Homo sapiens: one gene and its partners. The protein of the gene in region 1 purifies or fractionates together with the protein of each later gene. This does not show direct contact. Each region holds a gene or a part of one and is shown in the gene's direction. Other genes may lie near its edges.

Region 1 (4,413 bases):
GCACTGGGAAGAAAGCCCTGAGTGACAAGATGTCAGTGTTCTCTATGATTGGCCTTGCTTGGTATCTTATGTACAAATGGCTTGTGGGGTAGCTGTTTAACCCAGGCCTGGCAGCCTAGAGGGCTGCTGGAACAGGACAGCCCTAGTCAGAATTTGTACCCCAGACTGGAAAACTGGGGAATTCCCTGTAAGCCCTGTTACAGGGGCTGCACCCCAGATACAACCTGACCTGTGTCCAAGGCGGGCAACTCAACCCTTAGATATTGAATGGGTCCCATGGCACCAATGCTTAAACACCAGCAGCCCTCACAACCACAGATCGTGTTTTAAGGATGAGGAGGTAGTTCTCTGGATGCACAGGCTTCAATCCAAATGGGCTCATGACGCCGCAGCACACACCCAGACTGCAGCCTGAAGAGTTGGAGCATTGCATTCACAGAAAGCATCCAGACATGATCATGGGCTCAGGGATACACCTGTTCTCCGATGTGTACCAGTGAAGGATGGAAACTCCTATGCCTCCCAGAAAGCACCACTCAAGCTTTTGCTGAATGCTTCTCTGAAGGCCCACAAGGCCTGAGAGGCTGTGCAACACCAGCAGTAAAGTGAATGCCCAGACTCCCACCTCCTTTCTTGGGTGGCCATCTGGAAAGGCCACTCCCACCCTGATGGCTAATGCCTCAGACCAGTTCTTGGCCCAGATGATCCTAGACAATTGTTTAAGCTTAAACTGTTCATTGGCCAAGCAAACAGGTGATAGTCACCTCTGGGGAACCACATGCCGCGTGTACATCCAGTACTCAGGAGAACCCAAAAATGTCTGTTCCACATAGCAACAGAAGCCCAGGTAGCACTCAGTCTCACCTGGGTGTTCTCCAACATCCCAGCTCAGCCAAATGGCTTTCATTAGTTTTTATGGTTAGACCCCAGGTCCTCGGGACACTGCTTTAGAAACACATTCCAAATCCTCCTCTGTGTGCAGGTGGCATTCCTATCCCAATCTCTTTGCAGGGCGTATACTGTGATACGCAGCCAGGCTGTCCCAGAGGCCTTAAATATTCCCTTGGTGCAGGTAGTTCAGCTTAGCCACAGCCAATGCATCACAGGGTCAACTGTGTTAGGAGCCATTGAGAATCCATAGTTGGTTGCTGCCTGGGCCTGGCCAGGGCTGACCAAGGTAGATGAGAGGTTCCTCTGTGGAGTTCTACTTTAACCTCACCTTCCCACCAAATTTCTCAACTGTCCTTGCCACCACAATTATTTAATGGACCCAACAGAAAGTAACCCCGGAAATTAGGACACCTCATCCCAAAAGACCTTTAAATAGGGGAAGTCCACTTGTGCACGGCTGCTCCTTGCTATAGAAGACCTGGGACAGAGGACTGCTGTCTGCCCTCTCTGGTCACCCTGCCTAGCTAGAGGATCTGTAAGTACTACAAAACTTAAACTTTACACTGAGTTTTCATTATTGAAGCTATGCCTCCAATCTGACCTCTGACTGTGGGGCCACCCCAGAGGGAACCAGCGGGCGAATCCCTGCTAGGAACGTCTGTCCGGACCTCTGGTGACTGCTGGGGACGATGGCTTCCAGCTAACTTAATAGAGAAACTCAAGCAGTTTCCTTCTAAACACACATGTCACATGTCCTGGTTGACATGTCCAGTAGAGACTATCACAGGTCTTTGGAACATTCTTTTGAGAGAAACCTATTTAGGTCCTTGGTCTGTTTTTCAATCAGGTTGTTTGATTTTTGCTATTGAGTTGTTGGAATTCCTTATGTATTCAGATATTTGCCCCTTCGGCCATGTAGGTTTTGCAAATATTTTCTCTCATTTTCTGGGTTATCTTTTCACTCGGTTGATTGTTTCCTTTGCTGTGCAGATGCTTTAGCGTTAAATGAAGCCACACTTGTCTATTTTCCCTTTTATTGCCTGTGCCTTTGGTGTCATAGCCAAGAAATCATTACCTACATCAATGTCAAAAGCTTTATCCTTCTATACACTTCTAGTAGTTTATGGTTTCAGTTGTTACATTTAGGTTTTCAATTCATTCTGAGTTGATGTTTCTACATGGTGTGAGATAAAGATTTAAATACATACATATATAAAATCATGAGGTAGTGTACACTATAAATATACAATTGTTAATTGTTACTCAAGTCTAAGTAGAGGTGGAAATAATAAACTTTCTTTTTTTTACTTAAACCACTCTGTGTCACTGAGCTGATTTCACCTTTAGCCTGATAAAATCATTGTCCTCTCCACCCTGATTCCTACAGGAGACTACTCACCCCATAACCTCAAAAACCTCTTCATGAGGATGGTAAGTCACCTGAATCCTGAAGTGAATTACTCGCTATTCCATTGGAACTCATATAGGACACCAGAATCTAGACCTCCAGAGAACAGCAGGACCCATCTTCAGAAAATAAGAAGCATTTGTTCCCTGAGCCTGTTGAATCAAAGTGCAATTTCTATTCTTTTTGGAATGTTAAAAAGTGAATCATAATATTTAAGCAGGTGAACCCACGAGTAACATAGCAGGGTCTTTCTTGTCATTATTAGCTCCAACCTAGCACAGACATTAAAGGTACAGATGTATACTAGCATGAAACTGGGAGAACAGGAGCATTCGAGCAACCTTGAGACCAATGGGCCTCTCTTATAAAATGCACACCTCCTCTCACTGAGATTGAGGAAGGTTTCTTGTCTCCGAGCCTTCTCCCAGTAGAGCTATAAATCCAGGCTGGCTCCTCCCTCCCCACACAGCTGCTCCTGCTCTCCCTCCTCCAGGTGACCCCAGCCATGAGGACCCTCGCCATCCTTGCTGCCATTCTCCTGGTGGCCCTGCAGGCCCAGGCTGAGCCACTCCAGGCAAGAGCTGATGAGGTTGCTGCAGCCCCGGAGCAGATTGCAGCGGACATCCCAGAAGTGGTTGTTTCCCTTGCATGGGACGAAAGCTTGGCTCCAAAGCATCCAGGTGAGAGAGGCAGGCATGCAGAGCTGCTAAGTCTAGAGGGAAGGACGGGAGAGAGGTTCCAGAGTTGGGTCTCAGCAGTCTATGTCACTGAGGTGGCTTCACTTAGAATCTCTGGGCATTGATTTTCTCATCTAGAAATTGAACAGAGAGCCAAATAAACATGAGAAACTTTATTTCTCCAAAGACTTGATTCCAAGAAACGTCTGTGAAATTCACTAAGTTTCAGATATGAAGAGACAGACTAGTTATTTCTGGATCTAAACAAGTAGACTTAGTTGTAAAGAGAACATTTTACTCTATCTACAGAAGAGCTTTTAAAAACTGCAGCCAAGCCTGAGGATATGTTCAGGTGTGTGTGTGATGGGGCAGGAATGCAAAAATGAGAGCAAAGGAGAATGAGTCTCAAATTCTGAGTGACAAGCACTGCTCTGCGTGTTTATTCCTATCGACTGAGGTTGTTCGTGCTAACGGCTGCAATGCAGCCAGCATCACCTGTCAGCTAGCATGTGACTTCCCCGAGATTCTTTTTCTTACCCACTGCTAACTCCATACTCAATTTCTCATGCTCTCCCTGTCCCAGGCTCAAGGAAAAACATGGCCTGCTATTGCAGAATACCAGCGTGCATTGCAGGAGAACGTCGCTATGGAACCTGCATCTACCAGGGAAGACTCTGGGCATTCTGCTGCTGAGCTTGCAGAAAAAGAAAAATGAGCTCAAAATTTGCTTTGAGAGCTACAGGGAATTGCTATTACTCCTGTACCTTCTGCTCAATTTCCTTTCCTCATCCCAAATAAATGCCTTGTTACAAGATTTCTGTGTTTCCACCTCTTTAATGTGTGATATGTGTCTGTGTCAAGACACTTGGGATACACGTACCAAAACGCAAAATCAAATTTTTGAACAATATAAAATTCCAAATTCTAGGAATTTCAAGCAGGAGTTTGGGCTTCAGATCCAAATTGAAAAGAAGGCCCATATGACACCACTGATTTCCCCACCCACTGCTCTGCCTTTTCACCCTGCCTCATTTTCTCTGGATCCACTCTCAAAGAGCTCGCGTGTGCTGGGCAAACAATCGGTGTCAGCTTACATTTCATGCAGTCACAAAATCATTACTTCTCCGGGAAAAAAAAACCATCCTCTGTGCTAAAGAATTGGAGTTTCATTGAACAATGTCAGATTGTACATTTTCCTTTTAAGACATAGGGTTACATGAGATCCACGGAAAAAACTTTCATTCAGAGGGAAATGGGTTGTTAGCAAAGGCGGGATACATGGAACAGAAAGCACAGCATCTCACATTGGCACGTCCTCATTAAGAGGACCCTCCAGCCACGTCTACTAAGACCTGGATTTCACAATCATAAAGTTGTCTTCACACCCAGAAAACACACACACACAAATGCTCCACCGCACTTTGCAACGCGCACCCT
Region 2 (3,879 bases), about 110 Mb from region 1:
CAGGTCATCTGGGGGTTCCTGGACCCCAAGGTCCTTCTGGCCAGCCTGGATATTGTGACCCCTCATCATGTTCTGCCTATGGTGTGAGAGGTAAGTGTCACAAAAAGCCCCGCTTGTGGGCTTTGATCAATGTTTTAGTATGCTTAGTACCAAAATGGGAAGATAGTGCTATGAAAAAAGTTAAATTGGTTATGAATGGGAAGCAGAGCTTGAATGCCTCACTTCCTTAAATTATCCCGAGACATTTTCTATAAAGTGCAAATTGCTATAGAGGCTACTCCCTTAAAAACCTTAAGAGCAAATTCAAAATAACAGCACATCTAAGTCTTCCTTGCTTCCCAGTGATGACCTACATAGACTTGGCCTCTGACTTTGTATTTAGCACATTTGGAGGACATGGTTGAACATTCTTTTGGAGTCTCCATTCTTATGTGACAGCTGTGATGTGGCCAAGACGTCCCATAAAATTTTACTCTTGGTTTGGGGAAATGTCAAACTTAGAACTTCTCCCGTAATTAAGAGGGCTCCTTAGATTATTTTCAATGAAATCATGCATACCACTTGCATTTAGGTGCATTTAAGCACCACATTTTAGGTGACCAAGAATAGTTGTGAGAGGAAACAAAAATCATGCTGTCCTTGTCTTATCACTAGCTACTGGACTAAAAGAATATGCTTCCTAAAACATCTGCAGTGTGCATGCTGGCGTGCTGTGCAATGGCCCCTTTTCTGACATAGTCACTCTTGGAAGCATCAAGGGAGAGGCTGAGGGACTGCTGTGGGGCCATGAACTTACTAGTTAATGGGTTTAAAATTTTCTGCTTCAGTAGAAATTTAACCTTAGTTATCACAGGAATTGGTCAACAAAGTTTTGCTGATGTGTTTTTCTCTGTTCATCTTTTCCCTCCCTGTTCTCTCAAATACTCCTATCCTTATTAAGATCTGATCCCCTACAATGATTACCAGCACTGAAGTGGAAATCCTCCACTCTGGTTCCATTGGCCCCAGACATTTAGCTGTGGATACAGAACTGTCCTGTCAACCACCACCACCACCAAGCCCCTGCCCCTAACAATGGACACTCTGCTTCCCTGCTTCTTCTGCATCCCTGCCTTCCCACTTTCAAACCTCTTGCCCACTCTGCTCCAAACATGATGGAGTGATAACATCGGAACTTAACCAAATCATATATGTCTATTTTAATAGACACTGACTGCTCCATGTCAGCCTGGATAGAGGTATATGATCGTGTGCCAAGAATTTATCCCAGACTCCCCTGTGTGACAGCTTCATAATAAAGTTACTTAACTGTGCCTCTTCCTCCTTCCTCTCCCCACACAGGATGGATGGGCATCTTTCTCCTTGACCACCCTACTCTCCCTTCCTCCCCTGATCACCTCCCCTCCCTGCTCTTCCCTGGTGATGGACTTCTAACATGAGATTTTTTAAAAAAATTTCTATTTCTTTTATAATTTTGCTGAGTTTTCAGGGTTTCTTCTGTAAATAAAACATAATATTTAAATGGTTGGTTATGATTCTAGTTTTCTAACAATTTCTGTAATGTATCTTTCCCTTCGTCTATTTACTAACTGTCTGAAACCTTATGGGGAAGGTACAAGGGGCGTGGTGGATTAAGACATCCACTGCTTTTTACCCAGCAGGATATCTCTGTGTCTCTAAGGACCCAGGTGAGGGGAGAATATCAATTTATGATTCCTGGGTGCAGCAAGTCCCCACCCCCACTTTTCCTCTTTAGCTCCCCATCCAGATCAGCCAGAGTTCACCCCTGTCCAAGATGAGCTGGAAGCCATGGAACTGTGGGGCCCTGGAGTCTGATAGCCTCAGGAGAAATTTGAAGACCAACTGCAAGAACTCTTAAGGAATCTTGTTTGAGAAAATGTTGTTATGTGGTTTGTATGCTACTTTTGGGGGGCAGGGCTCATTTCAGCAGCCTAAATCTCCTCCTTGGATAATGTTAATATTATTATTATTATTAACAAAAAATATATATTTTTAAAAAGTTCCCTTAATCTATGACATGGTAGCAATGATTTCCCTTTGGTGTCTTAATGGCATGTCAGATAATTTGTTTTTCCAGAGAAGAGAGCTCAAAGAGGAATTGGGAAAAATAAATTGAACTCTGGAATCTTCTCTCTCAAGTCCTAAAATGAACAAACAGATATGATTGTGTTTGAGGGAAATATGTCCCTAGCAGGAAAAGAATTCAAAGAGGTTCAAAGAATATGTCACTTACTCCTACTTGCTGTAGGAATAACCTTGCTGATAAGAAAAAAAGGGACAATATTGGAGAAACTACCTCTTGTTTAATTGATCTGTCCAACTCTGAGATCACTTGGTAACTGGTTTCATGTGTATCCAAAAATCAGCATTTGGATTTAAGCTTTCTGAATTTGGTAGTTTAAGAAACAGATTTAGTTTTTCAGTGGTTTTAACTCATGTGAAATAATGATTTTCCACCAGCTCTGATGCAAAGAGATATAATTTTAATGAACGATTTATCCAGCAGTGTGTTCCAGGGGTTGCCTCTCCTTATCTACGGGGATTACTTTGTACATGCAGATAAGTTTTCGCAAACCTATTTCCATTTTCTTTTGTAAGCAAATAAAACTTTAAAACAATGTATGTGGATTCTTTTTCCTGCATTTCTAAGTATCACCTTAAGCTTTTGTAGTCTTAACTGAGTGTCCACCAGAAAGACAACAGTTGTCTTCCTTTAGGTAAGCATTCAAACTTTCATTCATTCGTTTACTCACTCACTCATTCATTCATTCTGAGTGCAGTAGAAAACAGAAGAAGCAGTTAACTTGGGACTAAGAGATTAGCGACATTTTATTGTTCATTTATAATCTAGCAGGCAGCAAAGACCCTGCAAATGCATGACCTCTGCTAAATAAATGTTTATCAATAGTTGACTGAGGAGCCCACCTATCTTCTGATATTGAGGAAAGCCTAAAAACCCCTAGAAGGCAGAGCAGAAATGAGGTTGAATCTAATAGACTCTAACCCTTAAACCATACTTTGTCTTTTGCTCACAAAGGAAAAATCTAGGTATTTGAGAAAGATTTGAATTCTATTATGTGCTAGTTGAAATAGAAACAAAAGAGAACCATAAATTTAATACGTGCTCCTTCTCTGTAACATCTCCCTAGTAACAGCTAACTTTAGAAAGTAGGGATGGGATCATTTACAACTAGAAGCTGGATTCTTTCTGGATCAGGAAAAGGCTAACACGAAGGATGGTGTCTGTCTGATCACCAGGTTCTCTTTCTGTCCTTCTCATAATCTCCTGATCTTTGGAGATGAAAGATCTCCTTTCATCTTCATCTGAAGGATTCTTCAGATGATTCATCTTCAGACTTCATCTGAAGGATTCAAACAATCTACTTGTGTGCCTTTGGTGGGGTGGGGCAGGGGCGGGGGGCGGTTCTAAACAAATCAGTTTTTTTGGTGTCTTTGCAGGGAATGAAAGAAGATAATGAGCAGATAATCAGCAGCCATTTCCTTTCAGTTATGGTATATGATTCTGCCTGAGAAAGCAGGATTTATGGGAAGGAAAACTTGTCTAAGGCTCATCAAGATGGCCTGACCCAGAGTCACCTAAGAGAACTCTTCCAACTTAAATGACTAGGGTGTGTAATCAGTTGCTTCTTATTCTGTGTCTCAGATTTCCTAGTCCATGACATTTAATAGTGAGTATAGAGTAGGATATTCTATACATTTTAGTATTTGGCCCTTGGAAACAAAGTTAAATACCATGTCACTCAGAAGACTCTCAAAGTTTGTGTATAAATGGCGAAGTATACACTATGAGAGATTCTAATCCATTCACATCATTCTTGAGTTGTGCAAATACACTTG
Region 3 (3,879 bases), on another chromosome or scaffold:
GTTACTTTCAGTTATACAGCAGAACAGAAGCTCTTTTAGGTACTACAGGGTTATATATTTTCCCCGTTGCGTATATGCTCAACAGCTCGACATTGCATTGCCAGATAATTCTCAAACCTGTATTTAAGGAAAAGTGGATCAGCCACATCTTGGCAAAACTCACAATTTCAGTTTTGCTTTGTCTCATCCGTGTTATCAATCCACATATGCCAAATGTGGATTTACAGTGTATTGTAAACTTTAAAATGGTAAGTTGTATGGTATATGAATTATATCTCAATAAAAAAGAAATTGAGTAGAACTGTTTGACGTTAATGTCTAAATTATAATTAGACATTGGAAAGATAACTTTTAAAGTAACTATAGAAGCGTCATTAGACAGGGTCTGGCTCTGTCATCCAGGCAGGAGTGCAGTGGCTCAATCTTGGCTCACTGCAACCTCCACCTCCCAGGCTCAAGCCATCCTTCCACCTCAGCCTCCCCAGTAGCTATGACTACAGGCACGCACCACCAGCAGGACTAATTTTTGTATTTTTTTTGTAGAGATAGGGTTTCACCATGTTGCTTAGGCTGGTCGCAAACTCCTGAGCTCAAGCATTCTGCCTACCTCGGACTCCCCAAGTGCTGGGATTGATACACTTTTAATATTATGTCTGATAATTAGGAAATTTATCATGTTCACTGTATTGGATAATTGGATTACTTGATAATTTGAATTATTCTGATTTTAGGTGAAATCTGTGACTGTTGCTGAAGGACTCATAGAAGACCATTTTGATGTCACTGTGAAGATGAGCACCTATCTGGTGGCCTTCATCATTTCAGATTTTGAGTCTGTCAGCAAGATAACCAAGAGTGGAGTCAAGGTGAGCCTATGACTGTCACATATGGTGACCAGCTTGTTCTGGTTTGCTTGGAACTGGTTTTAAAACTGGAAGTCTGCCTGAGCGCAGTGGGTCGTGCGTGTAAACCCAACATAAACCCAACAGTTTGGGAGGCTGAGGTGGAAGAATCACTTGAGGCCAGGGGTTTGAGACCAGCCTGGACAAAATAGTGAGAACCTGTCTCTGCAAAAAATAAAATAAAAAAATTAGCCAGGCATGGTTCCTTGTGCCTGCTACTAGTCCTAGCTACTAGGGAGGATCCCTTGAGCCCAGGAGTTTGAGGCTTCAATGAGGTATGATTGTGCACTCCAGCCTGGGCAACAGAGCAAAACCATGTCTCTAAACAAACAAACAAAGACAAAACCAAATACCAAAATCCTGGAAGTCCTGCATCCTGGGAACCTTCTCAATCTCAGGCAAACTGGGATGGTTGGCCAGCCTGTTGTCACGGATGCTCATTTGTATAGTGAGGTTCTAATAACAACAACGTGGAGAGAGTGTGGCCTGGCCTGAGTCATGATCCTGGCTTCACTGCAGTCACTTCACTGACTCTCTGACCTTGGCCCTATTCCCTCTGAAACTTAGTATTTACTTCTTTGGAAGGTATAACTTGGACTAGATCCTGCAATGGTCTCTAAGGTTGCTTCTGGTTATGGCTTTCTGCAGTTTGGAAGTAAATGTTACTATCTGGCAGGGGATTTCTGGCTATGGTAAGGAAGATAGAGCAACCTGCTTGGAATACCCAAAGGCTTTGGGCCAGGTACACTGGAATGCTGGAGAGAAAAATCTTGTTTCAAGGCACACTTGTTCCTCATTTGGGTACTGTTGCATAGTGGGCAACCTATTCAACTGTGTGCCGTAGCTCAGAATGCAAACAGGTTTTTCTGAGGGGAGGAAGGGATGCTTTGTTTGAAGATACCTTATGTGTTTGTGCTGGTTTTCACTGAGGCCTGAATAGATGGGGATTCCCTGCTGAATTGCTTTGTGTTCCTCTAGTGCTGAGATTTCTTATTCTTGTGGAGGTATCTTTACTTAACTGGGGATTTGAAGGTGACGCTTGAGACTCGGATGAAGGGAACATTCTTAATTCAGCAGTGAAACTATCAGCAAAAACACCCGCCCATTGCTTTGCCACTTATCTGAATCTCTTAGAAATGATTATTTTAGTAATGTCTAATCTATATTAATATTTTTAATTCTTTCATTTCTTTAAACACATTAAGCATACAATTATATATCTGTGTCTGGTAATTGTTTTATCTGAATTCTTTGTGTATCTGATTTTGTGGTTCGTTGTTTCTGCTGGCTCTTGCTTATGGTATCTTGTTTCCTTGTTTGTATTATGAATTATGTTTGTGAGCTTACGTTGCCTGAGTCTAAAGTGGATTATTCCAGAGAGAAATTGTATTTGCTCTTACAGAGTGTCTGGGAGTACTTACTGGTCCAGGGATCACTTTACTTGTAGTTTCCTTGAGAAAGGGTAGTTATTTCTAGTTTACCTTTACATTAAAGGCCTGGCCTTTGGGTACTAGCTTTATGCAGGGATTGTATGTCCTGTTAGACTTTCTACTTTGGGCAGGCCCTGGACTTGGTCTCTTAACTCCTGAGTCCTTCAATGACATAAGAACCAAAGCTCAAGTCCAGCTGTGTTGGGCTAGTGCCGGCAGGGTTAAAGCTGGCTGCAGTGCTCTCCTGACATCAGAGGGTCTAACTGTCATTTCACTTTGGCTTCTAAATCTTTCTTTCTCATTTGCCATCTTATAAACACATTTAAGAACACTTTATACATGTTATCCAGCATTTGTTGTTGTTTTCAGAAGGGGGATTAATCAGGAACAGTCAGTATTAATGCAAGAAATGGAATTCCCAATTATTTTCTTTAATATTGGCAACCATATCCCACAATATGAAGACATTAATGTCAGTCTTCTACACAATGTGGGGAGAGAAGCCAGTTAAGATATTTGAATTCCTTTCTGTGCCTTTCTCTTTAGGTTTCTGTTTATGCTGTGCCAGACAAGATAAATCAAGCAGATTATGCACTGGATGCTGCGGTGACTCTTCTAGAATTTTATGAGGATTATTTCAGCATACCGTATCCCCTACCCAAACAAGGTAGAGATTTTGCACAGATATTACACATGACATTTGATGAACACAGTCATAGATTTGTCATTATAATTGGCACATCCCTGTAGTTGCCTCAGCAGCCCCTCAAGCCACAAAAACCCCAGCAAGTGACAAACCTGCGGTTGATCTTTCTGAGCATCTCCTCACCCTTGATGAGTACAGTAACTTCTAGTGATAGTGAAGAAAGCAGATCTTCATAGAGTTCTTGAGGCATATGGCATGGGGACTCTTTTGCCTTCTGATTTTATTAGTGGGCAGACAGCAGAGGGAAGAGGCTACATTTTTTCTTTACTGGCACCTGCTTGGCAGGAACCCAGAGGATGCTCAACAAACTGTTTTGAATGAATAAATTTATATAGTGTAAGACAATCTGAATTTTCTTTCTTACACAAGCCCTTAAAACTATTGTATGTTTGATTTTTTAGGTATATGTGGGTCTTGGGCATCCAAAATAGAATGGATTATTATAATTGTTTAGTTTTTCAATTTCCAAACTCCTCATCAGAAGGTTAGAAATGGAGTCAAGAGGCCTGAAAAGGCGGGCACGGTGGCTCATGTCTTGTAATCTCAGCACTTTGGGAGGCCCAGGCAGGTGGATTACTTGAGCCCAGGAGTTTGAGGCCAGCCTGGGCAACATGGCAAAACCCTGTTTCCACAAAAGTACAAAAATATTAGCTGAGTGTGGAGGTGCACTCTTGTAGTCCCAGCTACTTGCAAGGCTGAGATGGGAGGATCACCTGAGCTTGGGAGGTTGAGGCTGCAGTGAGGTGTAATTATACCACTGCAAATGCACTCCAGTATGGGTGACAGAGTGGGACCTTGTTTCCAAAAAAAAAAAAAAAAAAAAAAAAAAAAGGCCTGAGAT
Region 4 (3,879 bases), on another chromosome or scaffold:
GAGTTAGAATACATATATTCAGGCTACAACCCTGCCATTAATCATGTGACCATAAGCAAAACCCTTCACATCTTGTTGATTCAATTTCTTCTCAGTAAAATGATACCAGTCTCTCTTCTTACAGGATTTCTATGAGTAGGAAATAAAATAACTAGATGAAAGCAAATCACATATGCTATAATGTGCCCCTTAAATGCAAGGTTATTTATAATTGTGAGAGGCTGGAAATAGTCCAAACTTTATAAAAAGAAATGGTTAAAAATGGCATGTTATAGTGAAAATCAGTAAAACTATTCAGAATGCGCATGTGGAAAGCAAATTTGTTTTAAAAAACAAATTTAAGTAAAAAGAAAGGCTAGAAACTCAAAGTCTTAGGTGGCTATAGTTTGGAGGACACTAATAACACTGAAAATAGGTCACATTTACAGAAAAATTACAACGCACCAGGTACTGTGCCTTCCGTGGATTATTTTTTAAATTCTCACAACAGCCTGTGACATTACTGCTGTTATTTTCATTCTACATATGAAGAAATGAAGACTGAGAAGTTACTTAGTCACATAGCTAGTATTTTGCAGGACTGGGATTAAAACTCAGGTTTCATAGTCTCTTAACCATTTCTGCTAACCTGACTTTCAGCAATTATTACTACTATTGTTCCTTAAAAACATAGCAACCAAGAATGCCTGTTTTTATTCTGTTTTATTTCTCCCCAGGTGAGAGTCCATACATGGAGCTCCCTGGAGCCCGTGTGCTCTCGTGTGACTGAACGTTTTGTGATGAAAGGAGGAGAGGCTGTCTGCCTTTATGAGGAGCCAGTGTCTGAATTGCTGAGGAGATGTGGGAATTGCACACGGGAAAGCTGTGTGGTTTCCTTTTACCTTTCAGCTGACCATGAACTCCTGAGCCCGACCAACTACCACTTCTTGTCCTCACCGAAGGAGGCCGTGGGGCTCTGCAAGGCGCAGATCACTGTAAGCACAGGTCATGGCGGAGGGCAGGGGACTGTGGCCTTGTGGGGTTCTCCTGCTCTTGGGCCAGCTCCTTGCATCCTGAGATTTGCATGTGTCCCCCTTGGTGCTGAGTTTACCTGAGGCCTGGGGGAAGATTGGCCTCTTCCCACTAAAAGCAAACACCAAATGATTTCTATTTCGAATCCAGGATTTGTCAGAGTTGCTGGTGACCACTACTCGTTTGTCCCATCACCCCTCCTTAGTGGGCAGGTGCAGTGATGGGAGAGGAAGCTCGAGTCATCACCACTGCCTGCATGCCCACTAGGTTCCAGGCTGTGTTCTAGGTGCTTCACCTCATAGTCTCTGACTTTCACCACAGCTCCAGGCATTATCATCTGCATTTTGTAAGTTTGGAAGCCAGTTTAGGAGGTTAAGTGATGAGCTCGAGGTCCTGTAGCTGGGAAGCATTGGAGCCCAGCTGACGCAGTCTAATTTTAAGTAGAGTCTATTAATATTCACTCTAGTCTCTTTGATTTATTGCTTCAAAGTAGCTCAATCACCAAATCTTTTTATAATTGCCAAGATATAAAAATGGGATGATCAGGATGTGTTGTTATAAAAATTGTGCAGCTGGAGAATTTGGAATTTGTCTAGTAGGTTGAAAACCTTTCCTTCCTTCTCCCCTACACATAGCAGTTGGAAATATATGTACACATATATGTTTTTAATTTTATTATCTTATCTTCTGGACACTCAGGAAATATCTTTCTAGAAAGTTACATTCTCTGTTTTTAGAAAATTTTAAATTTGTTTTACACTTTTACTTCATAGAAAGGGATTTTCTACATTTAATTTAGAAATAATCATATAAAAACACCTAATTCTTGTGTTTTATTTGAAAGAGCCTAACAACTGAAAACATACCTTCTTTCTATAGTCACATAATAAAATCCAAGTTATCTGTAACAACTAATAGAGAACAGAAGAAAATGACAGTCTTACATATATTTTTTTCCAAAAAAGAAAAAAAAAACCACTATGTACTGGATGAATTTTCAGTCTCTAAACTTATGATTTTGAAAACCAAATTTTTTTCTTTCCTGAGTTAGGCCTTCATTACCTTGAGGTGGGTAATTGGGGTGGGAGAAAAGCAGGGCTCTTTCTTTGTTCTATCTCATTTTGATTTCAGTGAGACTTGTCCTTCTTAAAGAGATAAAATGATAGTAATAATACTGTTAGTTAATGTTTAATTCGGGGCTAATATAGACTAGGTATTTGGCTTCTTTTCTCAAGGGAGATGCCAGAAACTTGTTCTCCCTGTCTCCCTGAAGCCAGGGTGCAAGCTTGAATCCCAGGCTCTGCAGTCAGACATACAGAGAGGAGATTTCCAATCCAACGAAGATAACCAGCATAAGCATGACACCAGCATCTCTTTCGGCCTTGGTCTTGGAGCAGCAGAAGCTGATGCTACCCTGGCAGCTTCCTGGGCAGGCTGGCATGAGCCGCATGAACCTTGTTCCTGTGGCTGCTTTAGGACCTTCACTGGAACAGCTGGGCGGTGCGATCTGGGAATTTGCCATCCAAATTCAAGCCTGAGTCTCTGATCCTGAAGAGCAACCTGATACGCTTTATTAAGCTTCTTTTCTGCTTCTATCAATATAGGTTTCCTTGTGTATAACTCAGAACCCTGAATGATAACATATTACACAAATATGTAAGGCTAAATTATATATAGTGAAAATGGCCCTTTGAAATTCTTTATGTCACACATAACATATAATGTAAGACTGAGATGTTGCATGACAAATGCACAGATTAAGAAACCAGGTTGCACTCAGCTCCGTGCTCACACAAAGAGAGGTTTGCAAACCCTCCCACTCTGGGGAGCAGCGCATCCTCACTCTGGGCATATGCTATTCGGCTACTTAAGAGGAATGGAGCCAACACGATTTAAATTGCACTGTCTCTTTTTGCTGCTATTTTGTGGAATTCACACATGTAAAAAAAATGCTAATAATGTGACTTTACTTAACTATGCAGTAAAAGAGATAAGCTCTAATGGTAGAGCTTTTGTAAATTTCTGGCAGTGGACTTTCTAGATTGCTGGATCTTTTCAGGAGACTTGAATGTAAGCTCCACAGTTGGGCTCTGTAGCTAGGTCCAGATATATCCTTAGAAAGTCATTAAAACCACCCAGGCTGTATGTAAAAATGTTGCTCTCTTGATGATACTCTGAGAAAAACTGTAAAAGATGTAAAGCTTTGAGCTTCTTGTGAAATATTCTCCTTAATGATTGGAGACGATGTATTTCCTTGATTTGTGATTATAATTTGGTAACGTTCCATAGCCTGTAGTCATTTTCCATGTATTGTTTTGTGTTTGAAACTGCACTTTAGCAGTTGTAGAACCAAAGTTGTGGGAAGTGGACTCCTTGTTAAGCCCACATAAATGTTTACAGGAACTGTATACAGACTATATAACTCTTCCCTCATCCTTCACTTCATTCATTTTTTTTTTTCTTTTTCAGGCCATCATCTCTCAGCAAGGTGACATATTTGTTTTTGACCTGGAGACCTCAGCTGTCGCTCCCTTTGTTTGGTTGGATGTAGGAAGCATCCCAGGGAGATTTAGTGACAATGGTTTCCTCATGACTGAGAAGACACGAACTATATTATTTTACCCTTGGGAGCCCACCAGCAAGAATGAGTTGGAGCAATCTTTTCATGTGACCTCCTTAACAGATATTTACTGAAGGAATCTAGGTTGTATTTTCAGTGGACAATGGGAATAAAGCATTTCTAAAGCACCGACTGGAGAGGAAGGCAACAGAGACAAGGAGAGAAGCCGAGAGACATGTCTGCGTGCTGCCACGCATTTGAGCGATTGCTCTGTGAAGAGTTGTACACTGAACACTTTCAGGGGAGGC
Region 5 (3,879 bases), on another chromosome or scaffold:
CTGCCTCTGCCCCGCACCCTGGCCGGCCCCAGGCAGCATAGCCAGCGCCGCTTGCCGGCGAGGCAGTCCCTCCTGCCCAGTCTGCCCACCCTCAGGTGCCCGCAGGCTGGGGCACCTCGAAAGTCTGTGGAAATCTGCATGCTTGCCTTTTCTCAGATTCGGTTCCAGACCATTCTTTCATGGTTTCTGTTGAGGTTGCTGTTTTTGGTTTCTCCTACTCCGTGTCTTCCCTCCTTAGCCTGCCTGCCCCACACACTCCTGGGGGCTGCATTCTTGGAAGACACCCCCTCCCCTTACCTTCCCCCTCCCCTCCCCACCCACCTCCACTCCCCTTCCCCTCCCCTCCCCTTCCCCCTCCTCCTCCCCCTACCCTCCCCTTTCTCCTCCCCCTCCTCCTGTCCCTCTCCTCTCCCCTTTCCCCTCCCCTTCCCTTTCCCCTTTTCCTTCCCCCTCCCCTTCCCCCCACCCTCACCATCCCCCCTCCCCTCACCTTCCCCCCTCCCCTTTCCTCCCTCCACCTCCTCTCCCTTCCCTTCACCTATTCCCCCTCCCTTCAATTCCTTCCTCCTTCCCCTTACCTCCTCCCCAATCCCACCTCCCCTCTCCTCCTCCCCCTCCCCTCCTCCCTCTCCCTTCCTCCCCTTCTCCTCCCCCTCTTTCCCCTCCCCTCCTCTCCCTCCAGTCCTTCCCCTCCCCTCCTCCCCCCTCCCCTCCCCCCTTTTCCCTTCCCCTCCCCTCTTTCTCCCTCCCCTCCCCTCTTTCCTCTCTCTTCCTGTTCAGCTCTCTACCCCTGTGGTGCCCCCTTCCCATGGTGCCTCTCTCTCTCTCTGCCCCCTCCTCTCCATTCTTTCCTCATCCATCCTCACTCAGTTCCCACTTACCCTCTCATCCTTCTCCTCTCACTTCCTACCTCTCTCCCCTCTGCATCCAACCTCCCTCCCTTACGCACTGTCCTCTCTTCTTCCCTCTCTCCCTCCTCTTCTCCCTGCATCTCCTCTATCTCCCTCTTTCTCCTGCTCACCTCCTCCATCTCTCTCTCTCACTCTCCCTCCCTCCCGCTCTCCCCACCCCAGCACCCCCCCCCCTTCAGTCCCACTCCCCACACTCCCTCCGCTCTGCCCCCTGGCTCCCTCCTCACCTTCTTTCTTCCCTCCTTCATTCCCCATCCCCCTCCTCCCTCCCCCTCCCTGCTTTCTCCCTGGCCCCCCTCCTTCCTCCCCTGCCTCTCCCACTCCTCTGCCTGTGGCTCACCCCTGCATGCCCTGCTCATCCTGGGCCTCTCCTGAGAGAGTCTCTAGAGCCTGTGGCCCTGCCTGCCCACCACGCCCGAGGTCACTGGGAGGGAGGCTGGGGCTCCGGCCCCACCGGGCGCCCCCCACCTGCCTGGCCGACTGGGGGCTCATCTCCTTTGAGTTTTCTTGCTCTCTCTTTCTCTCTCATGTCGTTTTTTGCAAGAAGTTTCCTTTCGGTATGATGATGAGACACAATATTTTCATTCAAACAGCCATTGAATAAAATATTGTTTGTGCCCCTCCCCTTTCCCTCCCCCTTTTCGTTTGTTTTTGTGTTTGTGTTGTTTTTGTTTTCCTCGCTTTCTCTCTTGGTGGACTGTCCCAGTGCCAATCAGCAAACTGAAGGGCAAGTATATTCAGAACCAGTGCACCCTCCTCTTCCCACCCCTCCCATCCTCACGCCCCTGCTTGCCCCCCTCCCTGCCCAGGACCAGCCAAACCCCTGCTCTCCAGGGCCCCCTCCCAGCTTCCCCTTGGCTCCTCTAGTTCTTGCCTTTCCTCTGATTCCTAAGCCCCTATGAGAGCCAGTGGCCTGTGCCCCTGGCCCTGCCTGCAGGGTGTTCTCCGGCGTGTTCTCAGGGCCCACAACCCTTTCCTTGGACCCCTCACTCTCTCTGGGGAGGCCCCTGCCTCCCCCACCTTCTCTGTCCCTCTAAGACAACTCAACAGTAGGGACAGTCTGGACGCTTCTCCACCACCTCCCACTCAGCAGGGCTGGAGGCCTGAGATGCAGGGGGTAGATCAGCCCCTAGTGGGGCTCATGTGAAGCTGTGGGAAGGGGCCAGCCCACAAGGCCTACTCTGAGGTAGCTCTCCCTCCTCTGATCTCTGGCAGTAGCTTCAGAAGCTGGCAGCCCTCCAAGAAGGGAGGCAGAAGGCTCAGAAGCCTCACGCCCTGATGCTGGGGCCAAAGGGCAGCATAGGGCAGGCCCCAGCCATTGAAGAGCAGGGCTGACCCGCGCCTCCTGGGCACTGACACAGGTGCTGATGTCCCCGTGTCCTGCCGGCCCGCTGCTTCCAGAGGCTTTGCTGAGCCCCGGGGTGGCTTGGCAGTATGGAAAAGGTGTTTCCCTGGGGAAATAAAACCAGATTTGGGGACCAGGGGCCTGGACAGGGATGGAATGGGATCTGTTTAGACCCCAAGAGCCAGCAAAGGTGTTTGGAGGAAATCAGGCTGGGTATGAAAGGAAGGGTTCTGGCACACTGGGGTGCCTAAGCCAAGGAGACTTCTGGAAGAGTGGGTAGTGAACCCCTAGACCCTGGCAGAGAGTAAGGGGAGTGAGAGAGGACAGCATTACAAAGGTCTCAGAGAGCCACCTCTCCCAGGGAATCCCTGGGCAGATGGGGCATGGAGAGCCACAAGAGGATGTCCCCATGACCTGGAAGCAGGGGCACCCAAGAAGCCCTAGGGGCCCTGTCCAGCCTAGTCCAGCAAAGGGGATAAAGGGATCAGAGCCACCTCCAGTGGCCAGGGCGGGGGTGGGGGATGTGCCCTACTCCCACTGGCTTGAGTTGTCTTTTTCTCCCCACCCCCGCACATCCCACCCAGTGACCCCAGAAATGCAGGGCCCTAGTAACAATGACAACATAGCATAGTCTCCTTCCCTGCTCCTTCGCCCTCCTTTTTCTTTTTCCTCCTTCTCCTCTTCCCCCCAACCCCTTCCCCATCGGCTTGTGTCCAAACCCTGCCTCACAGTCCTATCAGAAAGGAACAGTCCAACCAGTGACTGCCCAGCCCCTCCAAGCACCCCAAGTGCCCCCTTCCCCAGAATCTTGCAGTGCATTGTGGGAGTATTTGGTATCAGGGACAATCTGTCTTCTATACAATTAAAGCCCTGGGAGCAAAAGAGAGCTCAGAAGTGGAGACAGGCTAAGAAGGTGGACCACCCACAGTGAGACAGGCCAAGAGCAGAGGGACCCCTCCCAGGTGCAGACCAGCAAGGTGGCCAGTCCAGCTGGGCAGGGAGAGGCCACAGAGGAGCCCCAGCGGCCACATCCTCAGGTTCACTCTCAAACCCATACAGAGATACTCACACTTAGGCACACACACACACACACACACACATGCATGCTCACTCACCCACACATGCACAGCTCATAAGCCCAGGGCACAGGCCCAACTGGGGATGCCTCAACAGCAGCCCTATGCCCTCTCTGGAGCCCTAGCATCCCCCATGGCTGCCTGGAGCCCAGACAGGTTTTAGGAAGGGTGGAGACCCAGCCCGTCTCCACGCCCTTAGCCAAGGGAAGCAGGTACAGTTTCCAGCAGCACCCCTGTCCTCCTTCCAGCTCCTCAGACTTTCTTCCCACACTGTGGGAACACTCCTTGGCACTTTGAGGGTCTCCCTTCACCTCCTAGCCCAGGGAGGACCACCAGCCCCGACAATGCACTGCAGTGAACCCTCAGCTGCCCCGACCCGTCTCTGGTTGGACTGTTTGTGCCCGTGAGAAACCCCCTCGGTTTGGCCATGTTGATGCCTGACACAGAACAAAAGCAAGACCTACCAAAACGCAAACAGCTGCGGCAAAGAAAGAGAGAGAAAAATCCGCAGCCAAAAGCCAATTCCCTTCCTCAAAGTCTCTTTGGA
Region 6 (3,879 bases), on another chromosome or scaffold:
TTTCTAAAACGTTTGTCTCACCTGCTACCTGAAGAAGGTCCCGCCCTCTGGCCCTTGAGGCCCCGAGTGCCCAGGAGCTGCTGCCATCAGCATGGATGGGTGGTACCAGGCAGGCTGTGGGTGCAGGGTGCTTGGGGAGGGCCAGGTGTGCCTTGGGACGTGTGAAGTGGGAGCCTGGAGCAGGGAAACTGAGGCCTGCTCTCGCCCCTGCTGCCCACAGCTTATCTGCCCCCTGGAGACCAGCCGTGCCTGACCCTGGGGTCGTCAGCTCAGTCCTGCTGGGTCCTTCCTCCACCCCATCTGCTGAGAGCTCCTCCAGGGCAGGGTCTGAGCCTGCCAGGCCACAGAAAACACTGGGCGGATGACAGCTGCCTGTCCCTTCCTCGGCAGTCTGCATGCAGTAGTGCTGGCCTTGCTGCCTGCCCCTGGAGCCATCACTGGCTACCCCGCCTGCTTCAGAGCTGCCACCCCTGGGGCTTTCTGACATGTCCTCATAGGCGGGGGTGGCCTGCAGTGGCACCGCACCACTTGCCAGGCACTGTGCCTCCCTCCCTGCAGGGAGGTGTGCGGTCAGATCAGGCAGTTGCCAGCGGACACCAAGAAGCGCTTTGTGCTCCCCGGGGTCCCTCCATGCCCCCCACCCCCACCCCTGCCCAGGGCAGTGTGAGGGGAGGAGGGGAGCAGTGTGGGTACACTTCCATGTTGCCATCTGGGGAATCCTGGCGGGGGGTCAGGGCCCTTCTGGAGCTGCTCCCCCGGGCAGTGAGGGGCCCTGTGGGCTCCTAGGCTGCCTGCCTGGCCCTGGTTCTACTTGGCCTGAAGCCCACCCACCCCAGCGTGGACAGGAGCCAGGAGGAGGAGCCCTCTAAGAATGACTGCAGCCTCTCCCGGGGCTGAGCCCACACACACACACCGGGCATATCCACAGCCGCCACCACGTTTTACCCACCTGTCCAGTGTCCTGACGCCTCCAGCCCAGCGTCATAGCGAGCCTGGCAAGGACATGCTTCATGCTGGGCTCCTGCCGCGCAGGGGAGGGTGGGAGGTGGAGTCTTCCTTGGGTCGTTTCTCCCTTGTGCACGCACCGTTACATACTGTGCAATGCGTTGGTGTCTTGGGGGACAACCCAGCAAGTAGAGTTGGTGTATACGTCATGGCTTCCTCTGGGGTCCTGGGCTGGCTGGTCCGCTGGGCACCCCCCCCCCAACCACCACCAGGCCTTGGCAGGACCCTGGGACTGGGACTGGAGGTGACCCTCGCTGGCCCCTGCCCACCTTCTGTTCCTGCTGAGTGGCTCTTTGGGTGGCACCATGCCCAGGCTGTAAACAGCTGGTGAAGACTGCTGGCCTCAGGCGGCTGTGGCTCTGCGACTTCTCTGGATGCGGTATTGGTGGCTCCACCCACCAGCAGGAAAAAGTCAGGTTGTCCCTCCAGAGGAGCCAGGCCAGGCGCTGCAGGGCACTGTGGTGGTCATCCTGGGTAGCCATGTGACCGTGGCATGCTCCTTGGCATCTCTGATACCGGGTTTTGAAACGACTGAGAGCTAAGTGCAGGAGTTGGTTGGCATTAGAGGCGAAGCCCAAACTCCTGTAGTGGGGACTTTGACTCAGAGCAGCCCTGGTAGCCCCCCTCATGCTGCGTCACAGCCCTCACCTCCTCTCCCCGTCTCCTTGCAGGAAGTTCTACTACATCACCCTGCTACGAGACCCCGTGTCCCGCTACCTGAGCGAGTGGCGGCATGTGCAGAGGGGTGCCACGTGGAAGACGTCGTTGCATATGTGTGATGGGCGCACGCCCACGCCTGAGGAGCTGCCGCCCTGCTACGAGGGCACGGACTGGTCGGGCTGCACGCTACAGGAGTTCATGGACTGCCCGTACAACCTGGCCAACAACCGCCAGGTGCGCATGCTGGCCGACCTGAGCCTGGTGGGCTGCTACAACCTGTCCTTCATCCCCGAGGGCAAGCGGGCCCAGCTGCTGCTCGAGAGCGCCAAGAAGAACCTGCGGGGCATGGCCTTCTTCGGCCTGACCGAGTTCCAGCGCAAGACGCAGTACCTGTTCGAGCGGACGTTCAACCTCAAGTTCATCCGGCCCTTCATGCAGTACAATAGCACGCGGGCGGGCGGCGTGGAGGTGGATGAAGACACCATCCGGCGCATCGAGGAGCTCAACGACCTGGACATGCAGCTGTACGACTACGCCAAGGACCTCTTCCAGCAGCGCTACCAGTACAAGCGGCAGCTGGAGCGCAGGGAGCAGCGCCTGAGGAGCCGCGAGGAGCGTCTGCTGCACCGGGCCAAGGAGGCACTGCCGCGGGAGGATGCCGACGAGCCGGGCCGCGTGCCCACCGAGGACTACATGAGCCACATCATTGAGAAGTGGTAGTGGCGGTGGTGGCCACGGGGAGGCCTCTTGGGGGGTGTGGGGGATAAAACAGGACAGACGACAGGTCCACCCAAGACTGTCAAGGGATGAGCATCCCAAACCTGCTCCACAGAGGTAGCTGCGTCCTGAAAAAAAACAGAGCAGGGATGTAGTGGGGCTGGGCAGGGATGGGGGCTTGAGAAATCAACAGGTGCAGCCCAGTGGGTCAGAGGAAAGCGTGCTCGAAGGATGCCATGGTCAGGGCAGGGCCTCCAGAGCAGGTGTTGTGCCTGGAGCTGCTCTCCTGGCCTCCTTGGATTTATCGCAAAAACTGAAGGTTTGCGCAAGAGACGAGGACAGCGGAAAGTGGACCTGCCAGGCCGGGAGTGTGTCCCTCACCAACTATGCACACAGCACTCGCTCTTAGCTCCTCTGTCCGGGCTACTAGGAGTGAGACCAGCTTCTGGCAACTGCCCCAGCTCCAGGCCATCCCATAGCCCCTCCTCTTCTGGCTGCCCCCAATGCCCCGAGGCCTGGGGAGCCCCCAGCTCACCCATCTGTAGCTCCCTCAAAGTCAGGGCCCACCCCATCTGAGGCAGAGAAGACTCGAGTCCAGCCCCCAGGAAGCCTGCTCCCCTCTCTGGCCCATGGTCCTGCTTCATGCTTTGGGTCAGGAGGCCAAAGCTGATGTTCAGGCCCCACCCACTCCCTACAGTCCTCAGACCAAGGAGGGGTTTGGGTAGTAGGCCCGAGCTGCATTGCCGGCCTTCCTCGGGCCAACTGGCAGCCCAGGAGTGGGGAGGCTTTGGCCAGGGATGCTGCCACTTGTGCGTGAGTCCGCGGCTGGCCCTTGGAGGTGACCATCCAGGCAGGCCTGGCTCAGACTGGAAGGGCTGGGGACCGAGGGCTCCCCTGCCTCTGTTCTCCTTTCTGACCCACTGGGATTTGCTAGCAGGCTGCCCCAGCCCCATCACCGAAACACATACTCAAGAGCTCAAATACCACTGCTCCCACCAGCGTACGGATTAAGTTCATCAGGCTTCCATCGGCTGGAGCATGGGACCATAGCCCCTGCCCAGGAGCCGTACCCTCGGACCACAGTGGCTCTGTATGGCCAGGAACTGGGACTCGAGCTTTCAGATTCTCAACTAGCCTTGGCAAAACAGCTGTAGGTGGCCTCCCTGACAACAGACACTCAGCCCTCCCCACCCTGGCTCTCCTTGCATTTCCCCATGCTCCCCACCCCCTGGCAAAAGGCTGGCCATGCTCTGTTCCCAGCAGCCGCGCAGGTTTCCCCACTGGCTGCAATGGCCCTACCAAAAGCCATGTTGCATATCCGTTGTAAGCACGTGCCCTGTGCCCTGTCCCCATTCCTTATGCCCTAGGAGGCCAAGCTGGTGTCTCTAGGAGGGCCCACACAGGCACCCTGGATCCCCCAGAGAGTAGATTGGTGTGCTCAGGCCGCAGGCTGACTCAGAGGTAGGGCAGTGGGCTCTGCAGGCCACCTGGCTGGGG
Region 7 (3,879 bases), about 15 Mb from region 1:
CCTGTAATCCCAGTACTTTGGGAGGCCAAGGCGATCGGATCACTTGAGGTCAGGAATTCAAGACCAGCCTGGCCAGCGTGATGAAAACCCGTCTCTACTAGAAATACAAAAAATTAGCCAGGCGTGGTGGGACGCACCTGTAATCCCAGCTACTCAGGAGGTTGAGGCAGGAGAATTGCTTGAACCTGGAAGGCGGAGGTTGCAGTGAGCCGAGATCATGCCATTGCACTCCAGCCTGGGCAACAGAGCAAGACTCCGTTTCAAAAAATAAAAAATAATAAAAATGATACCTACCTTGCAGGGTACTAAGCTTTATAGACATGGCTCTGAGCCATTAGCACCATGCTTGGCAAGTGACTCTTCCCACCCTGGTTAGGTTGACAACCCAGGTTTAAACAGATGAGCTGCTCACAAGCAGAAACAGAACCGAAGCCCTCAACAGTGAACCAGTGGACAGTCGAGGGCTTCCAACCCTGTGACCTCAGGCTTCCCAAATACACAGTTCCTGAGTCATGGAACTAGCTAGAGGGGACCTTATACTGATATTGTCTAAACTGCATTCTGTCTCTGTACTCCCCTGTGTAAAAAGATGGTTTGATAAAGAACAGAATCCACAAGATAGCCAGGACAGGGGTGAAGCTCCTGGAGAAGATGGCCTGTTTACCTTTCCATCTGCTGATTCACCTTAGAAGCATGTGTGGTTTCTTACTCAGGTGATAGGTTAATTACAGATCTGTAAGCATTTCCTGATTCCTATGGAGGACCCAGCACTATGCAAAGATCTGTAGGGGATTCAAGACAGGAACCCCTCTGTTCCCACGGAGATTGCAGCCTAGCTGGGGAGAGACATGGGCGTGCAAGGAACACAGGGGGCGTGGAAGGCCAGAGCGCAAAGAGGGAGGGCAGGGGGCTGTGTGAACCCACCGATGGGTAATGGTGACAGCTCACGGTTCAAGTGTGGGTAGACGGGAGCTTCACCTGCCTCTACCAGGGACTTGAGAGGGCCCTGTTTTCCGGGCCCTCGTGCTGTATCTTGCCCATCCTTCTCCCCACCAGTCATAGTGCCTGGCCGCCTGTTTCCCCCAGTGAAAGCTGTCCAATAATGTCATCATGAATAATGATCATCAGCTTGTAAATCTGAGTCGGGGCAGGGCGTGGTGGCTCATGCCTGTAATCCCAGCACTTTGGGAAGCTGATGGGGGCAGATTGCCTGAGCTCAGGAGCTCAAGACCAGCCTGGGCAACATGGCAACACCCGTCTCCACTAAAAATACAAAAAATTAGCCAGGCGTGGTGGCGCAAGCCTATAGTCCCAACTGCTTGGGAGGCTGAGGCACAAGAATCGCTTGAACCTGGGAGGCAGAGGTTGCAGTGAGCCAGGATCGCGCCACTTCACTCCAGCCTGGGCAACAGAGCAAGACCCTGTCCCCCCCCACCCCGCCCGCCCCCGCAAAAAGAAATTGAGTTGGGGAAGCCATGCTTTTCAGAGGCAGAAGTCAGATTGCCGTGGATTGAGGAGACCTGCCGTGAGAGTGTGGCCATAGCGAGTGTTCTCGAAGGCTAGCTGGAAACAAAAGGAGAGCGATGGGCTGTAGCTGGAGGGGCCTGGGAGAGCTCTTTCAGGATGTGTGAAGGTTCCGAGGCTGCAGAGCTGAGTGAGAGCGTGAGGCTGGATCATTTGTGGTGTGAGGGTTCCCACGCGTGGGCAGCAATGAGCTGCACCTCCCAGAAGGGCAGTCCATCCTGACGGGGAGGAGGGACACTTGCTCTGAGGCTTCAGGGCAGCAGGGTAGCAGGGTAGGTGGGTTTGCAGGTCGGAGTCCAGAGGTTGAAGCCATTCATGGTGGAAGGCCCTGGCTTTGTCAGGAGGTAGGAGAGAGGTGGTCTGCCACTGGGAGCTGACACAGTGGCTTGAGGAGGGGGCTGGATGTTTGCAGCAGTTACTAAGGAGGTGAGAGATGGAGCTGGTAAAGGCCAATCCAAAGAGTATCAAGTGGTCTGGGGGCCCAGGTGAGGCTGGAGCCACAGGTGGAGTTTTCTAAGATAGTGCTGTGCAGAGCCGGGGATGCAGGGCCACGCAGGGTGCAGAGGAGCAGGCTGGGTGGTCAGCCCTGCAGTCAGTTAAGTCAATCGAGGAGGAAATAGTGGGAGAGAATAGAAAGATCAAGACCCTGGAGGTCTCTCTAAAATTAAGAGGCCAGCCAGGCACAGTGGCTCATGCCTGTGACCCTAGCACTTTGGGAAGCTGAGGCAGGAGGATCGCTTGAATCCAGGAGTTTGACATCAGCCTGGGCAACATAGTGAGACCCCATCTCTACAACAAGCAAAAATGAAAAAAATTACCCAGGTGGCATGCCTGTAGTCCCAGCTACTTGGGAGGCTGAGGCGGGAGGATCAATTGAGCCTAGGAGCTCAAGGCTATGGTGAGCTATGATCGCACTACTGTACTCCAGCCTGGGTAGCAAAGTGAGGACCCATTTTTGTTTTTGTTTTTTAATTTTAATAAAGCCAAATGACCATGATCAGGAAGGTGAGGTCCTGAGCACCCCGAAGGAACAGGAGGTGGCCACAGAGGGGTGATGTGTTTGTGATGTGAAGAAACAGTGGATGATGACAAAGCCCTCAAGGAACCGAGAGGCCGTCTTGGGTGGACCGTTATATGTCTGTTGACTTCACCTGGGAGGGTAGCAGGAGTGGGGGTGGGGAGAACTGAGTCAGGTGTCAAAGTCCCCTGTGACTGTCCAGGCTGCTGGAGATCAGTGGATGACAGCTTCAAGGAGGGGCACAGGTCAGCCGGGTGCAGTGGCTCACGCCTGTAATCCCAGCACTTTGGAAGGCCTAGGCAGGTGGATCACTTGGGGCCAGGAGTTCGAGACCAGCCTGGCCAACATGGTGAAACTCTGTCTCTACTAAAAATACAAAAATTAGCCAGGCATAGTGGCTCACGCCTGTAATCCCAGCACTTTGGGAGGCCAAGGTGGGTAGATCTCCTGAGGTCGGGAGTTTGAGACTAGCCTGGCCAACATGGCGAAACCCCGTCTCTACTAAAAATACAAAAATTAGCCAGAGATGGTGGCGCACGTCTGTAATCCAAGATACTGAGGAGGCTAAGGCAGGAGAATCACTTAAACCTGGGAGGTGGAGGTTGCAGTGAGCCGAGATCACACCACTGCACTCCAGCCTGGGCAACAGAGCGAGACTCCATCTCAAAAAAAAAAAAAAGAAAGAAAGAAAAGAAAAATGGAGAGGCACAGGTGATATGACCCCTGTGGCCCAACACCTACAAAGGTCTGGGGGTTGTCCAGGGAGCCTGCGATGGCTGCTTCATGAGTGCTGCCATGTGAGGCCTCACTCAAGGCTTTTGTAGGAATCGGGCAGCTAGATTTTCCCCAGACGCAGTAACCTCATGAAAAAGAAACGATGCCTGCCTGCCATCCAGTTCATAAGTGGGACAAGAGATGGAAGAAAGGAGGGGGGGCAGGAGGGAAGGGCCTTCCCCACAGGAGGCATCGGAGCTTGGGGTCCCTCTCTATCCCCTTCCGTCACTCGCTTCCCTGCAGCCGGCTGTGACCACAAGGTGACATCCACCAGTGGTACCATCACCAGCCCCAACTGGCCTGACAAGTATCCCAGCAAGAAGGAGTGCACGTGGGCCATCTCCAGCACCCCCGGGCACCGGGTCAAGCTGGTAAGGGGTCCCCTCCCCACTCCTTATGCGGTGTGGCTGCCCCCGGTCAGAGGCACTGCCCAGAGCCACACAGGCTGCAGGCTGAGCCCAGAGGTCTGCCATCCCCAGGAGACCCCAAGTCTGGCCTGGACAGAGGCCCCTTTCCCAGTATAAATTAGGGGCGTCCCTGCCTTCGCCCTATTCCTGGGCCCT

The links.
Region 2: the proteins of DEFA1 (region 1) and COL14A1 purify together in Homo sapiens (affinity purification with mass spectrometry, with the first as the bait; 2 studies listed by BioGRID). This does not show direct contact.
Region 3: the proteins of DEFA1 (region 1) and ERAP1 purify together in Homo sapiens (affinity purification with mass spectrometry, with the first as the bait; 2 studies listed by BioGRID). This does not show direct contact.
Region 4: the proteins of DEFA1 (region 1) and MANBA purify together in Homo sapiens (affinity purification with mass spectrometry, with the first as the bait; 2 studies listed by BioGRID). This does not show direct contact.
Region 5: the proteins of DEFA1 (region 1) and CACNA2D2 purify together in Homo sapiens (affinity purification with mass spectrometry, with the first as the bait; 2 studies listed by BioGRID). This does not show direct contact.
Region 6: the proteins of DEFA1 (region 1) and HS6ST1 purify together in Homo sapiens (affinity purification with mass spectrometry, with the first as the bait; 2 studies listed by BioGRID). This does not show direct contact.
Region 7: the proteins of DEFA1 (region 1) and BMP1 purify together in Homo sapiens (affinity purification with mass spectrometry, with the first as the bait; 2 studies listed by BioGRID). This does not show direct contact.

Annotation. Positions count from the first base shown.
Region 1 is NC_000008.11:6,977,026-6,981,438, reverse strand, and holds DEFA1 (neutrophil defensin 1 preproprotein), read left to right. Parts: upstream 1-1,346; 5' UTR 1,347-1,426; intron 1,427-2,278; exon of another isoform or gene 2,279-2,313; coding exon of another isoform or gene 2,314-2,322; intron 2,323-2,792; coding exon of another isoform or gene 2,793-2,804; coding exon 2,805-2,979; exon of another isoform or gene 2,980-3,110; intron 3,111-3,559; coding exon 3,560-3,669; 3' UTR 3,670-3,790; downstream 3,791-4,413.
Region 2 is NC_000008.11:120,369,396-120,373,274, forward strand, and holds part of COL14A1 (collagen alpha-1(XIV) chain isoform 1 precursor), read left to right. Parts: coding exon 1-90; intron 91-940; coding exon of another isoform or gene 941-972; exon of another isoform or gene 973-1,341; coding exon of another isoform or gene 1,342-1,439; exon of another isoform or gene 1,440-1,756; coding exon 1,757-1,836; 3' UTR 1,837-3,879. UniProt on the Homo sapiens protein: Plays an adhesive role by integrating collagen bundles. It is probably associated with the surface of interstitial collagen fibrils via COL1.
Region 3 is NC_000005.10:96,794,162-96,798,040, reverse strand, and holds part of ERAP1 (endoplasmic reticulum aminopeptidase 1 isoform b precursor), read left to right. Parts: intron 1-731; coding exon 732-866; intron 867-2,878; coding exon 2,879-2,999; intron 3,000-3,879. UniProt on the Homo sapiens protein: Aminopeptidase that plays a central role in peptide trimming, a step required for the generation of most HLA class I-binding peptides.
Region 4 is NC_000004.12:102,631,883-102,635,761, reverse strand, and holds part of MANBA (beta-mannosidase precursor), read left to right. Parts: intron 1-716; coding exon 717-974; intron 975-3,480; coding exon 3,481-3,705; 3' UTR 3,706-3,879.
Region 5 is NC_000003.12:50,370,824-50,374,702, reverse strand, and holds part of CACNA2D2 (voltage-dependent calcium channel subunit alpha-2/delta-2 isoform b precursor), read left to right. Parts: intron 1-1,617; coding exon of another isoform or gene 1,618-1,638; intron 1,639-3,879. UniProt on the Homo sapiens protein: The alpha-2/delta subunit of voltage-dependent calcium channels regulates calcium current density and activation/inactivation kinetics of the calcium channel.
Region 6 is NC_000002.12:128,266,668-128,270,546, reverse strand, and holds part of HS6ST1 (heparan-sulfate 6-O-sulfotransferase 1), read left to right. Parts: intron 1-1,676; coding exon 1,677-2,385; 3' UTR 2,386-3,879. UniProt on the Homo sapiens protein: 6-O-sulfation enzyme which catalyzes the transfer of sulfate from 3'-phosphoadenosine 5'-phosphosulfate (PAPS) to position 6 of the N-sulfoglucosamine residue (GlcNS) of heparan sulfate.
Region 7 is NC_000008.11:22,203,295-22,207,173, forward strand, and holds part of BMP1 (bone morphogenetic protein 1 isoform 3 precursor), read left to right. Parts: intron 1-3,559; coding exon 3,560-3,687; intron 3,688-3,879. UniProt on the Homo sapiens protein: Metalloprotease that plays key roles in regulating the formation of the extracellular matrix (ECM) via processing of various precursor proteins into mature functional enzymes or structural proteins.